Linked DNA regions of Homo sapiens. The protein of the gene in region 1 purifies or fractionates together with the protein of each later gene. This does not show direct contact. Each region holds a gene or a part of one and is shown on either strand. Other genes may lie near its edges.

What was found. Proteins that work in one complex are often made in the same cells at the same time.
Region 2: the proteins of MAPK6 (region 1) and AHSG purify together in Homo sapiens (affinity purification with mass spectrometry; 2 studies listed by BioGRID and IntAct, with this or other methods). This does not show direct contact.
Region 3: the proteins of MAPK6 (region 1) and RPS27L purify together in Homo sapiens (co-immunoprecipitation; 2 studies listed by BioGRID and IntAct, with this or other methods). This does not show direct contact.
Region 4: the proteins of MAPK6 (region 1) and SERPINA1 purify together in Homo sapiens (affinity purification with mass spectrometry; 2 studies listed by BioGRID and IntAct, with this or other methods). This does not show direct contact.

Annotation. Positions count from the first base shown.
Region 1 is NC_000015.10:52,046,719-52,050,218, forward strand, and holds part of MAPK6 (mitogen-activated protein kinase 6), read left to right. Parts: coding exon 1-297; intron 298-3,274; coding exon 3,275-3,419; coding exon of another isoform or gene 3,420-3,424; intron 3,425-3,500. UniProt on the Homo sapiens protein: Atypical MAPK protein. Phosphorylates microtubule-associated protein 2 (MAP2) and MAPKAPK5.
Region 2 is NC_000003.12:186,618,939-186,621,818, forward strand, and holds the end of AHSG (alpha-2-HS-glycoprotein isoform 2 preproprotein), read left to right. Parts: intron 1-918; coding exon 919-1,002; intron 1,003-1,647; coding exon 1,648-1,992; 3' UTR 1,993-2,380; downstream 2,381-2,880. UniProt on the Homo sapiens protein: Promotes endocytosis, possesses opsonic properties and influences the mineral phase of bone. Shows affinity for calcium and barium ions.
Region 3 is NC_000015.10:63,151,114-63,154,477, reverse strand, and holds part of RPS27L (ribosomal protein eS27-like), read left to right. Parts: intron 1-417; coding exon 418-446; 3' UTR 447-3,364.
Region 4 is NC_000014.9:94,378,603-94,382,102, forward strand, and holds part of SERPINA1 (alpha-1-antitrypsin precursor), read right to left. Parts: intron 2,540-3,500; coding exon 2,269-2,539; intron 1,010-2,268; coding exon 862-1,009; intron 39-861; coding exon 1-38.

The DNA of each region.
Region 1 (3,500 bases):
AGTGGAAGCCAATTAACAGACGATGTGGGCTCTCTTACGGAACTGAACAGTGTTTACATTGTTCAGGAGTACATGGAGACAGACTTGGCTAATGTGCTGGAGCAGGGCCCTTTACTGGAAGAGCATGCCAGGCTTTTCATGTATCAGCTGCTACGGGGGCTCAAGTATATTCACTCTGCAAATGTACTGCACAGAGATCTCAAACCAGCTAATCTTTTCATTAATACGGAAGACTTGGTGCTGAAGATAGGTGACTTTGGTCTTGCACGGATCATGGATCCTCATTATTCCCATAAGGTATGTATAGAAAGCCAGCTGAGACAGATCTTTAAACTGATACACCTAATCAGGAATAGGTACTTATATTTTCTTTGTATATTGTGGCAGAATTTTTAATCTTATTAAACTTTACATAGTGCCTTTTTTCTGAAACAAGTCTCTCTGTTTGAAATGAAGGTGGAGTGGGATAATTAAATACAAATTTCTAAAAATACATGGTTATTATAATGAAATTTTAAAGTGTATGGTTATTTATTATAAATGAAATTCTCCCTTAGTTATTTAAAAGTGGAATATACTCTTCTTTCTTTGGGACAGAATTGTGGTAAGAGGGGATGCTATTTCAACTTTAGGTCTTTTGTTTTTGAGACAGAGTCTCACTCTGTCACAAAGGGTAGAGTGCTGTGGCGCCATCTCGGCTCACTGCAACCTTCATCCCCTGGATTCAAGCGATTCTTGTACCTCAGCCTCCCAAGTAGCTGGGATTACAGGTGCGTGCCATCATGCCCAGCTAATTTTTTTGTATTTTTAGTAGACAGGGTTTCACCGTGTTGGCCAGGCTGGTCTTGAACTCCTAGCCTCCAGTGATCTGCCTGCGTCAGCCTCCCAAAATGCTAGGATTACAGGTGTGAGCCCCCATGCCCAGCCTTTTTTTTTTTTTTTTTAAGTTTTTAGTGACAAGATCTTGCTGTGTTGCTCAGGCTGGTGTCAAACTTCTGGGCTCAAGTGATCCTCTGGCCTCAGCCTCCTGAATAGCTGAGGCTAAAGGTGCATGCCAGCACACCCAAGCTTATGTCTTCTTTTGTCTCTTTGAGCCTGTACTATTCAGTTCTGCTTTGTTTAAACTAAATTTAGCTTGAAATCTAAATTCACATAAACAATTGGTAATAAGTATAGCCAAAAAGATCTCACAGCAACTTCGTCTTAGATAGCAAATTGCCTTCATACAAGAATTTAATATTTTTCAAGCTGAACCTTGGTCTTTTAGTTTGGAAATGAAATCTTATGTGGGACCCTGATGTTTAAATTAGAGAGGTGGAGCTGCTTTGGTTGTAAAGAACCCCTGGGAGCCCTGCTTTGTTAGCTTTCCACAGTACATGCCTAAGACAAATCTTCATACATGTTGTTTCACGTTAAGATTATTTTTATTTTTATTTATTTATTTTTTTGAGACTGAGTTGTGCTCTTGTCACCAAGGCTGGAGTGCAATAGTGTGATCTCAGCTCATTGCAACCTCCGCCTCCTGGGTTCAAGCAGTTCTCCTGCCTCAGCCTCCCAAGTAGCTGGGATTACAGGCGCCCGCCACCACGCCCAGCCCACATTAAGGTATTTTTACTTGGGCCAGGTACAGTGGCTCACACCTGTAATCTCAGCACTTTGGGAGGCTGAGGCAGGCGGATCACCTGAGGTCAGGAGTTTGAGACCAGCCTGACAACATGGTGAAACCCTGTCTCTCCTAAAAATACAAAATTAGCTGTGCCTGGTGGTGCATGTCTGTAATTCCAGCTACTCGGGAGGCTGAAGCAGGAGAATCCAGGAGGTGGAGGTTGCAAAGAGCTGAGATTGCGCCAATGCACTCCAGCCTGGGCAACAGGAGCAAAACTCCATTTCCAAACAAAAAAGATATTTTGTAGAAAATGAGTTCTAGGCTGGAAGCGCGGTGGCCCCTGCCTGTAATCTCAGCACTTTAGGAGGCCGGGGCAGGAGGATCACTTGAGGCCAGGAGTTTGAGACCAACCTGCGCAGTGGCTCCTGCCTGTAATCTCAGCACTTTAGGAGGCCGGGGCAGGAGGATCACTTGAGGCCAGGAGTTTGAGACCAACCTGGGCAACACAGACAACTTTTTTTTCCTAGAGAAAAAGAAAAAGAGATGAGTATTACACTGACGACGTCCACAGTGAAATATTGTGGGTAGAGCACTGTATCCACAGTGAAGTATTGTGGATAGAGCACTGAACTAATAAGACTTATACTATATAAAATTGACTCCATTTCTACATCCAACTAGCTATATGACTTGAAGCAGATCTCACTCTCTCAGTCATCACACCTATAAAATGGAGTTAATATCTACCATCACAATCTCTCAGGGTAGTTTTGAGGATGAAATAAGGCAATATATGTGTAAGGTTTTGTAAGGTGCTTTGTAATTGTAAAGTAGTTGAATAGGTGATGAATAGGATTTATAGTAGAGGTCATTAAGGAGGTAGACATTGGTTTATAAGTAGCACCTCTGGTGCTCTTCCCTACTGTTCTGACTTGAAGCATACTTGCTCTTTGATTATCTCAAGACTGAGTGTAAACCAGCTCGTCTTCTGAAAAATGCTTTGAATGTGTGGCCTAGAGTTATATAATTTTTTTTTTTTTTTTTTTTTTTTTAAAGACAGGGTCTTGCTCTTTGCTCACTGCAACCTCTGTCTCCTGCGCTTAAGTGATCCTCCCACCTCAGCCTCCCAAGTAACTGGGACTACAGGCGTGTGCCACCATGCCAGGCTAATTCTTGTATTTTTAGTAGAGGCAGAGTTTTACCATGTTGCCCAGGCTGGTCTCAAATTCCTGACCTCAAGTGATCCACCTACCTCGGCCTCCCAAAGTGCTGGGGTTAAAGATTAGGATTTTTTTTTTTTTTTTTTTGAGATGGAGTTTAGCTCTTGTTGCCCAGGGCGGAGTGCAGTGGCACAATCTCGGCTCACCGCAACCTCTACCTCCCGGGTTCGAGCGATTCTCCTGGCTCAGCCTCCCAAGTAGCTGGGTTTACAGGCATGCACCACCACACCTGGCTAATTTTGTATTTTTAGTAGAGATGGGGTTTCTCCGGTTGGTCAGACTGGTCTCGAACTCCCGACCTTGGGTGATCCGCCCACCTTGGTTTCCCAAAATGCTGGGATTACAGGCATGAGCCACCACGCCTGGCAAATTAAGGATTCTTTAATCAAGTTGTAAGTACTGTTCTTCAGCTAAAGTAAAAAAAGTATGTTTTTTGTTTCTTTTATAGGGTCATCTTTCTGAAGGATTGGTTACTAAATGGTACAGATCTCCACGTCTTTTACTTTCTCCTAATAATTATACTAAAGCCATTGACATGTGGGCTGCAGGCTGCATCTTTGCTGAAATGCTGACTGGTAAAACCCTTTTTGCAGGTTAGTATTTTGTGGGGGGAAAAATTTTCCCAAAGAGAAGTAATTTTGCATTTTATCTCTGAAGCAAGATTCATATAAGAT
Region 2 (2,880 bases), on another chromosome or scaffold:
CTCTGATACAAAAGCTTTCAAGTCCTTGAGCCAATAATGTACACTTCTAGGATTTTAGTCTAAAGAAGTCATCAGTGGCCAGGCATGATGGCTCATGCCTGTAATTCCAGCACTTTGGGAGGCCAAGACGGGTGGATCGGGAGGTCAGGAGATCGAGACCATCCTGGCTAACATGGTGAAACCCCGTCTCTACTAAAAATACAAAAAAATTAGCCAGGCTTGGTGGTGAGCGCCTGTAGTCCCAGCTACTCGGGAGGCTGAGGCAGGAGAATGGTGTGAACCCAGGAGGCAGATGTTGCAGTAAACTAAGATCGTGCCACTGCACTCCAGCCTGGGCAACAGAACGAGACTCTGTCTCAAGAAAAAAAGAAAAAGAAAAAGAATTCATCAGTGACATTTGACAGAATATATCTATAAAAATGATTTATTATGGATATAAAGAGACCAAAAAAGAGAGATCTGTATGTCCAACAGGAAGGTGTCATTGAATAATCCATGCACATCAGTAAATAGAAAATTGTGCAGACACTAAAAATTGTGTTTTCAAGGAATAATGAATGATATGAGAAAATGCTATTATGGCAAGTGAAAACACACAGGATACAACATCGTATAGTCACAATGATCTCAATTTTTAAATCATATTTAATAGTATTTTAAAATAAGAAAGAAATGCATCAATGTTAACAGTCCTTCTTTCTAGGCCACCACCAGAAAGGGATTATGGGTAATCTCTCTCACTCTCAAAGTATTTCTGTATTTCCATGTTATATATAGAATCATATACCTCCCACAAGCAGAAACTATAACTTTAAGAAAAATGGTTTTTCAAACTAATTTAAGGTTGGCGCGTCAATGAAATTGGGGGGGATCCATTTTTGAAATTAGTTAAAATAAATCCTCTTTCTCTGTGGGCAGCAATATGGCTTTTGTAAGGCAACACTCAGTGAGAAGCTTGGTGGGGCAGAGGTTGCAGTGACCTGCATGGTGTTCCAAACACAGGTAACAGCTCCGTGAATATTCTTGCCTACACCTTCAGAATACAATGACCCCTTCACATTTATGCAGTGCAGTAGTGATGACAGGACATTTGCTCTCCTGTGCTTCTGAATCTCACAGTATGAAATAACACTGGGGTATGCGGAATCATCAACAAATGGAAGGATATTTTAGCTATGCCTTTCCCTCCCACGAACTAGTGACTACAGGGAAGAACCATCTTACTGTGTAGTTGACAAAGCCACCTTTTTATTTGTGGGAGGTGGGAGTGGTTTTCTGAGTTGCAGAGACCAGGTGGCCAGATCTACCTGTTAGCTCCCAGTGGCTGCAGCTTCAGATGACAAAGAGGGTGGCACTGCTGGGCAAGGGTGAGCCATAGGTGGGGTGCTTTTACTCATTGGACATATGCGTGTAAGTCCACCATCACAAAGACAATCCTAGTGAGGCCGGGGCCAACATAGGCCAGTCACCCCTCCTTGTAACCTTGATGACAATCCCTTGTACTTGGGTAGGTCCTTTCTTGCTAGACTCTTTGCAAATAAAAATGTATAATGTGAGGAAATTGGGTGCCAGTGCCACCTGGGCCTGTGGGTTGTCTTGCCTGGGAGGAGGAAGCAAACTAACTGAAGGAAATGGTCCTTTTTCCAGCCCGTGAGCTCACAGCCCCAACCAGAAGGTGCCAATGAAGCAGTCCCCACACCCGTGGTGGACCCAGATGCACCTCCGTCCCCTCCACTTGGCGCACCTGGACTCCCTCCAGCTGGCTCACCCCCAGACTCCCATGTGTTACTGGCAGCTCCTCCAGGACACCAGTTGCACCGGGCGCACTACGACCTGCGCCACACCTTCATGGGTGTGGTCTCATTGGGGTCACCCTCAGGAGAAGTGTCGCACCCCCGGAAAACACGCACAGTGGTGCAGCCTAGTGTTGGTGCTGCTGCTGGGCCAGTGGTTCCTCCATGTCCGGGGAGGATCAGACACTTCAAGGTCTAGGCTAGACATGGCAGAGATGAGGAGGTTTGGCACAGAAAACATAGCCACCATTTTGTCCAAGCCTGGGCATGGGTGGGGGGCCTTGTCTGCTGGCCACGCAAGTGTCACATGCGATCTACATTAATATCAAGTCTTGACTCCCTACTTCCCGTCATTCCTCACAGGACAGAAGCAGAGTGGGTGGTGGTTATGTTTGACAGAAGGCATTAGGTTGACAACTTGTCATGATTTTGACGGTAAGCCACCATGATTGTGTTCTCTGCCTCTGGTTGACCTTACAAAAACCATTGGAACTGTGACTTTGAAAGGTGCTCTTGCTAAGCTTATATGTGCCTGTTAATGAAAGTGCCTGAAAGACCTTCCTTAATAAAGAAGGTTCTAAGCTGAATGTGGTCATGCTTATTGCGACTTCATCCCAGCTCCCCTCACATGCATAGCCTTTTACCCCAACAAACACAGTGTCCCTAATCAAAATCAAAGTGAAAAGAGAACCAAAAGAGAACAAAAACCTGCTGTATTGCCAGATACAGGAAAAAGTGAGACTAGGATCTTTCCACAACCCATAAGATGTGACCATTTCTTTTTTTTTTTTTTTCTGAGACGGAGTCTTACTCTGTCACCCAGGCTGGAGCGCAGTGGCATGATCTTGGCTCACTGCAAGCTCCACCTCCCAAATTCAAATGATTCCCCTGCCTCAGCCCCCTGAGTAGCTGGGACTACAGGTGCGTGCCACCACACCCAGCTAATTTTTTTTATTTTAGTGGAGACAGGGTTTCACCATGTTGGCCAGGATGGTCTTGATCTCCTCAACTCATGATCCACCCACCTCGGCCTCCCAAAGTGCTGGGATTACAGGCGTGAGCCACCGCACCTGGCCAAGATATGACC
Region 3 (3,364 bases), about 11 Mb from region 1:
CAGATGGTTTAATGGGTCTATCTGTTCTAGAGTTTTCCTAATAGGTCTGAAAATACCTCTAATCAAAATTATTTACTTGAGAAAAGTATTCAGAATAGTTCCTAAAAATTAAGAGTATATCTTCTGACAGCTTGCTTGAAACAGTCTTCACTGTTGAATTCAGGCTCATGGTCTTAAGTAGACTTCATTATAGCATTTGAGAAACAGGAGTGACACTTATAGTCATACCAGAGTAAACTCAGATATGATAGATGTATTATAGCAAATTTCTGGTATAAAAGGATAAATAATCTGTATATGAGTATTAATCCAATATTCTTAAAACTTCAGTATTTTACTTAAAAGTACTTTTTGTCATTAAAATTATAGCAAAGGTAGAATGCACTTGTTTAATATACTCTCATGATTCTTTTGCAGGGTGTTCATTTAGAAGAAAGCAACACTAATGATTCAAACAGCTTCCTGAATTTTAATTTTGTGTTGTCTCACAGAAAGCCTTATCATAAATTCCATAATTCTAATTAATTTACCAAGATAATGTAATTACATTTGGTTTTGTAAGGTATACAGCAGTAATCTCCTATTTTGGTGTCAGTTTTTCAATAAAGTTTTGATTATGGGCAAATCCCCTCTTTTTCTTTTTTTAAAATATATTTGAGTATGCCATACATTTATATATATGGTGTATATGAATTTGGTTTAAACATTTTAAAATTTATTCTGATTAGTTTGTGTCTTTTTTTTTTTTTTTGAGAGAGAGAGTCCTGCTCTGTCACTCAAGCTGGAGTGCAGTGGTGCGATCTCGGCTCACTGCAACCTCCGCCTCCCAGGTCCAAGCAATTCTCTTGCCTTGTCCTCCCAAGTAGCTGGGATTATAGGCACACACCACCATGCCTGGCTAATTTGTGTCTCATTTTCAAGAGTAGAAACCCTAAATATTTTATTTTCATTCCTTTTCCAAATTGCTATGAATGGGATTAAAGGATTACAGATGTAAAGTCTATTATTTGTGAATTCTAAATGTAGTTCTGCTGTTGTACCTGTGGAAACATCTTAAAGAAGTACATATTTTGCACGTCCTGCACGTGTACCCCAGAACTTAAACTATAATTAAAAAGAATAGTTTCAAAAAAATACATATTGATCACAGTGTAATGCCTTGGATTTATGTGGCCTTGCTATACTACTATATAATTTAGGACAGTAACTGCTAGCTGGGGTGTGAGTTATTTATTGGAAGCTCCTTTTTAGGGTAGAAAATTTGAGGAGAAATCTGAAGTGGCATGATTTACCCGCAGAAGTCCTGGTTGGGGATAGTAGATGGTGTTGAATTCTCTGGCCCAGATAGGTGAGCACTCCTGACTACAGATGTGTGTTGAGTGGTTCTGGTGCCTGCCTCATTGTCATTTTCATAGTTTATGAAGTAATCCTGGGGAGCTGAGACGGGGAGTGTATCCACTCACTATACAACTCCTCATTGGACTAGGAAGATAGTCCAGTTTCTACTCTGCTTCTATTTGATTTGTTACCTTGTGGCAGGTATTTAAAACAGGCATTTCCTATCAACAGGTAGGCCTCTAATGTGAGCAACTGATCCTCTTACATACTGCTTAAATCAGAGAACTGTTGCACAAGAACTAAAGAATGATGGCAAGTTTGGGGTGTATATAGTTGTATAAGGAAGGCTGGGCGCAGTGGCTCACACCTGTAATCCCAGCACTTTGGGAGCCTGAGGCAGGTGGATCACCTGAGGTCGGGAGTTCAAGACCAGCCTGACCAACATGGAAAAACCCCGTCTCTACTAAAAATGCAAAATTAGCTGGGCGTGGTGGTGCATGCCTGTAATCTCAGCTAACTCGGGAGGCTGAGGCAGGAGAATTCGCTTGAACCTGGGAGGTGGAGGTTGTGGTGAGCCAAGATCGTGCCATTGCACTCTAGCCTGGGCAACAAGCACGAAACTCCGTCTCAAAAAAAAAAAGAAAAAAAAAATATATATATATACATATATATGTAGATGACCCAGAGATTCTCAGACTTTTAGTTTCTGACATCATTAGAATCTCAGTAATTTTTTTCAGGCCATTCCTTGGCCAAAAGAAATACCTAACAGTTACATTTATTAACTTATGTTCTAACAACTCTAGTAGCCATTTGAAAAAAACTATACACACACAAGAGCAAAAGTGATGTGATGATTTTTTTAAAAATAGAGACAGTGTCTTGGCTCTATTGCCCAGGTTGGAGGGTCATAGCTCATTGTGACCTCAAACTCCTGGGCTCAAGCAAGCCTCCCACCTCTGCCTCCTGAGTAGCGGAGACTTCAGGCACGTGCCACCACGCCCGCCTAATTTTTTTGTAGAGATGGGGCTCTGGCTGTGTTGCCCAGGCTGTAAGGAACTCCTGGCCTCAGGTGATCTGCCTTGGCCTACCAAAGTGCTGGGATTACAGGTGTGAGCCACTGTGCCCAGCCTGATGTGATAATTTTTATCTCATCCTTAAATCATCACAGTTACTAATGGAATGTGTGTGCCTTTTGGGCTCCATACAGTTTCTCAAAATTGAAATCAGATTGGACACCATTGTCCTTATTTCTTCCACATTGATTTTTGCATGGTGCTTTTTGTCATAGCAGTGGCTCCAAACCCAGCTTCACAAGGATAGGATGCCATCAAAGGGAATGTAGTGCCATATCATATTGAAACTGAACTTCCTGGAACTAGTAGTTTATACAAAAGATGCGTCAGTGTCAAGTGTTTTTCCTGAGGTACTCCAAGGCACTTCAGCTTGCACAGTTTAGGATACTTGGCTATAAGGAGAGACAGTGGGATGACAGCTTTTGATGAGAAGGAATCAAACCTATGATGAGGACTAATCTAACAAACCCTGAAAATTCCCTTGGAAGTATTTTTTAAAAAAGGATTATACTTTAAAGACCACATCTAAGGGCTGGGCGCGGTGGCTCACACCTATAATCCCAGCAGTTTGGGAGGCTGAGGCAGGCAGATCACTTGCAGTCAGGAGTTCGAGACCAGCCTGGCCAACACAGTGAAACCCCGTCTCTACTAAACATACAAAAATTAGCTGGGCGTGGTGGTGTACACCTGTAGTCCCAGCTACTTGGGAGGCTGAGGCACAAGAATTGCTTGAAACCAGGAGGCAGAGGTTGCAGTGAGCCAAAATCGCACCACTGCACTTCAGCCTGGGTGACAGCGTGAAGCTGTGTCTCAAAGAAAGAACACATCTAAGGATTTACATGGCATTGGGAAACGAATGGTGTATTAAGTTTTACTTTATTATTAATCTAGATGGTATTACTGGTTTTGAAAAGTGCTGAATAGGACACCAGGACTTTCCCAAACTTCAG
Region 4 (3,500 bases), on another chromosome or scaffold:
CCTTTCTCGTCGATGGTCAGCACAGCCTTATGCACGGCCTGGAGGGGAGAGAAGCAGAGACACGTTGTAAGGCTGATCCCAGGCCTCGAGCAAGGCTCACGTGGACACCTCCCAGGAAGCGCTCACTCCCCCTGGACGGCCCTGGCCCTGCACATCCTCTCCCTCCCTGTCACATAGGCCTTGCTCCTCCTCAAGGCTTTGGCTGATGGGGCTGGCTCCCCTCTGTCCATCTTCCTGACAAGCGCCTCTCCCCCTGCTCAGGTGCACCCACAACTCAGAACAGGGAAGAGCATCGTCACTCCACGTCTGCCTCCAGGGCTCTCTCCTTTCTAGTACACGGCTTGAAGCTCCTTGAGGACACGGACCCTGGCAGTGACCTTCACAGTGCCCAGACCCCAAGATAATGCAGCCATTCATGGAACTGCAGTTGTTCATTGGTCGCCTTTAGTTTTCCAAAATAAGTGTCATCTTTAGCTGAAATCATTCATTAATTCAGACACCAAATCTCACAGATCGAAGGAGTCAGAAATTCCTTTGAAACAACTTAGCCCAAACCTTTCTGTGTCAGTATGGATAAATCAAGGCCCAATGTCTAGAAGGTCTTGGGCAAAGTTGAAATTCAGGGTCAGTGACACAACCTCAAGGGAGGCCCCGAAAGTGCCAGCTGCACAGCAGTCCCCTGCCTGGCTTTGCTGTTTGACCACGTCCCGTGTCAGTGAATCACGGGCATCTTCAGGAGCTCAGCCTGGGTCTTCATTTGTTTCCCTCGGCCCCTTCCTCAGCCTCAGGACAGAGCTGCAGCCCCCACACATTCTTCCCTACAGATACCAGGGTGCAACAAGGTCGTCAGGGTGATCTCACCTTGGAGAGCTTCAGGGGTGCCTCCTCTGTGACCCCGGAGAGGTCAGCCCCATTGCTGAAGACCTTAGTGATGCCCAGTTGACCCAGGACGCTCTTCAGATCATAGGTTCCAGTAATGGACAGTTTGGGTAAATGTAAGCTGGCAGACCTGTCGTGCAGAAAAGAAATTCAAGGCATGGCACAGCATTCCTCTTGTTCTTCTGGGACCCACCACAGTGCAAGTGTTTTCTTTTCTGATTATTTCTGCCACTTACTCCTGTGTCCTCCACCCACACTAAGATGGGAACTCGGCTTTGGTTTGTTCTACTTTTAGCTCTTCTACATTGAGTCAAAGAATGTTAACATCGAATGAATCACAAAAGCTTGAAATGCCACCTCCTCTGATATTCTAGGTGTCCTGGAAGCCTGTCTCATCTTGCCCTGTAGTGTTGGGTCACCTGGCCCCCAGCCTGTAACATCCCCAGGGCCCTACACCCAGAGAAACACGGGGCTGGTGGCAGTGCCCAGTGACAACCGTTTAGTGGATAAGAGAAGAGTGACCACACCAGGCTGAGTGCTCCTCTCTGGTTTTCCATGGGGAGACAATGCCACCCTGAGCAGGGTCTGGTGTGAGCGGGCAGCTTGGCTCTGGGCTCTCTGATCCGTTACCCTCTCAGCCTCTTTGTTCTTTCTCAACCCCTGGAGCAGAGACCTCAGGAGGTGCTGGCATGGAACAGAGAAATTCCAGCCTCGATTCCTATTATGAACCCGACACCTTTTGTATTTTCATCTTGGTTTTACAGTGTACAAAACGAACTAGATCAGCAGGGCATGGGCATAATCACGAATGCACACACATACACTAATGTGTGGCTCATGTTTAAGTATCACTTACTACAGGACACCCAATCTAACAGCACCGATAAAGTGACAGAGAAACGCAAGCCTTCTGCGAACATGGCCTGGCTGTTCCAATTCCGAACCTTGCTTTTCTGGGCCTTGCCACACAGGCTCTTCCCCCGTCCCCCCAGGGACATTCTACCCTTGAACTCCACACTCCACTGCTGCCTTTGCCAGGAAGCCCATCTGTTCCTTTTTGGTTCTGCCAGAACGTGTGGTGGTGCTGCTGTCCCTGCCCTGGGCACTGGATATTGGGAAGGGACAGTGTCCACACTGGAGTGGGAAGTCCCCAGGGACGAGACCTTTACCTCCTCACCCCTGGGTACTGTCCTCCTCATGGAGCATGGATGGCGCTGCCTGAACTCAGTGGTGGCCTCATTCTGGAAGCCAAGTTTATACAGAGTAGCAGTGACCCAGGGATGTGGGGTTCACCCTCCTCAGCCCTCTGGCCAGTCCTGATGGGCCTCAGTCCCAACATGGCTAAGAGGTGTGGGCAGCTTCTTGGTCACCCTCAGGTTGGGGAATCACCTTCTGTCTTCATTTTCCAGGAACTTGGTGATGATATCGTGGGTGAGTTCATTTTCCAGGTGCTGTAGTTTCCCCTCATCAGGCAGGAAGAAGATGGCGGTGGCATTGCCCAGGTATTTCATCAGCAGCACCCAGCTGGACAGCTTCTTACAGTGCTGGATGTTAAACATGCCTAAACGCTTCATCATAGGCACCTTCACGGTGGTCACCTGGTCCACGTGGAAGTCCTCTTCCTCGGTGTCCTTGACTTCAAAGGGTCTCTCCCATTTGCCTGGAGAGAGGGGAAGGTGGGCATCACCAGGGGTGAGTGAAGGTTTGGAAGAGTGTAGCAGAATAAAGAAACCATGAGTCCCCTCCCTGAGAAGCCCTGAGCCCCCTTGACGACACACATCCCTCGAGGCTCAGCTTCATCATCTGTAAAAGGTGCTGAAACTGACCATCCAAGCTGCCGAAAAAGATTGTGTGGGGATAATTCAAAACTAGAGGAAGATGCAGAATTTCTACATCGTGGCGATGTCAGGCTAAGAGATGCCATCGTGGCTGTGCATTTTTATTGGAATCATATGTTTATTTGAGGGTGTCTTGGATATTACAAATAAAATGTTGGAGCATCAGGCATATTTGGTACCTTCTGTCTAAGGCTCCCTGCCCCTTGTTAATTGGCAGCTCAGTTATTCATCCAGGGCAAACATTCTGCTTACTATTCCTGAGAGCTTTCCTCATCCTCTAGATTGGCAGGGGAAATGCAGATGCCTGAGCAGCCTCCCCTCTGCCATACCAACAGAGCTTCACCATCGAGGCATGCAGAGTGGACAGGGGCCTCAGGGACCCCTGATCCCAGCTTTCTCATTGGACAGAAGGAGGAGACTGGGGCTGGAGAGGGACCTGGGCCCCCACTAAGGCCACAGCAGAGCCAGGACTTTAGCTGTGCTGACTGCAGCCTGGCTGCTCTCCACTGCCCTCCTTTGCCTCAAGAGCAAGGGAGCCTCAGAGTGGAGGAAGCAGCCCCTGGCCTTGCCTCCCACCTCCCCTCCCCTATGCTGTTTTCCTGGGACAGTGGGAGCTGGCTTAGAATGCCCTGGGGCCCCCAGGACCCTGGCATTTTAACCCCTCAGGGGCAGGAAGGCAGCCTGAGATACAGAAGAGTCCATCACCTGCTGTATGCCACACACCATCCCCACAGTCTTTGTCATTTGTTTAATCCTAAAAAAACCTGACAGCAAGAATGGTAT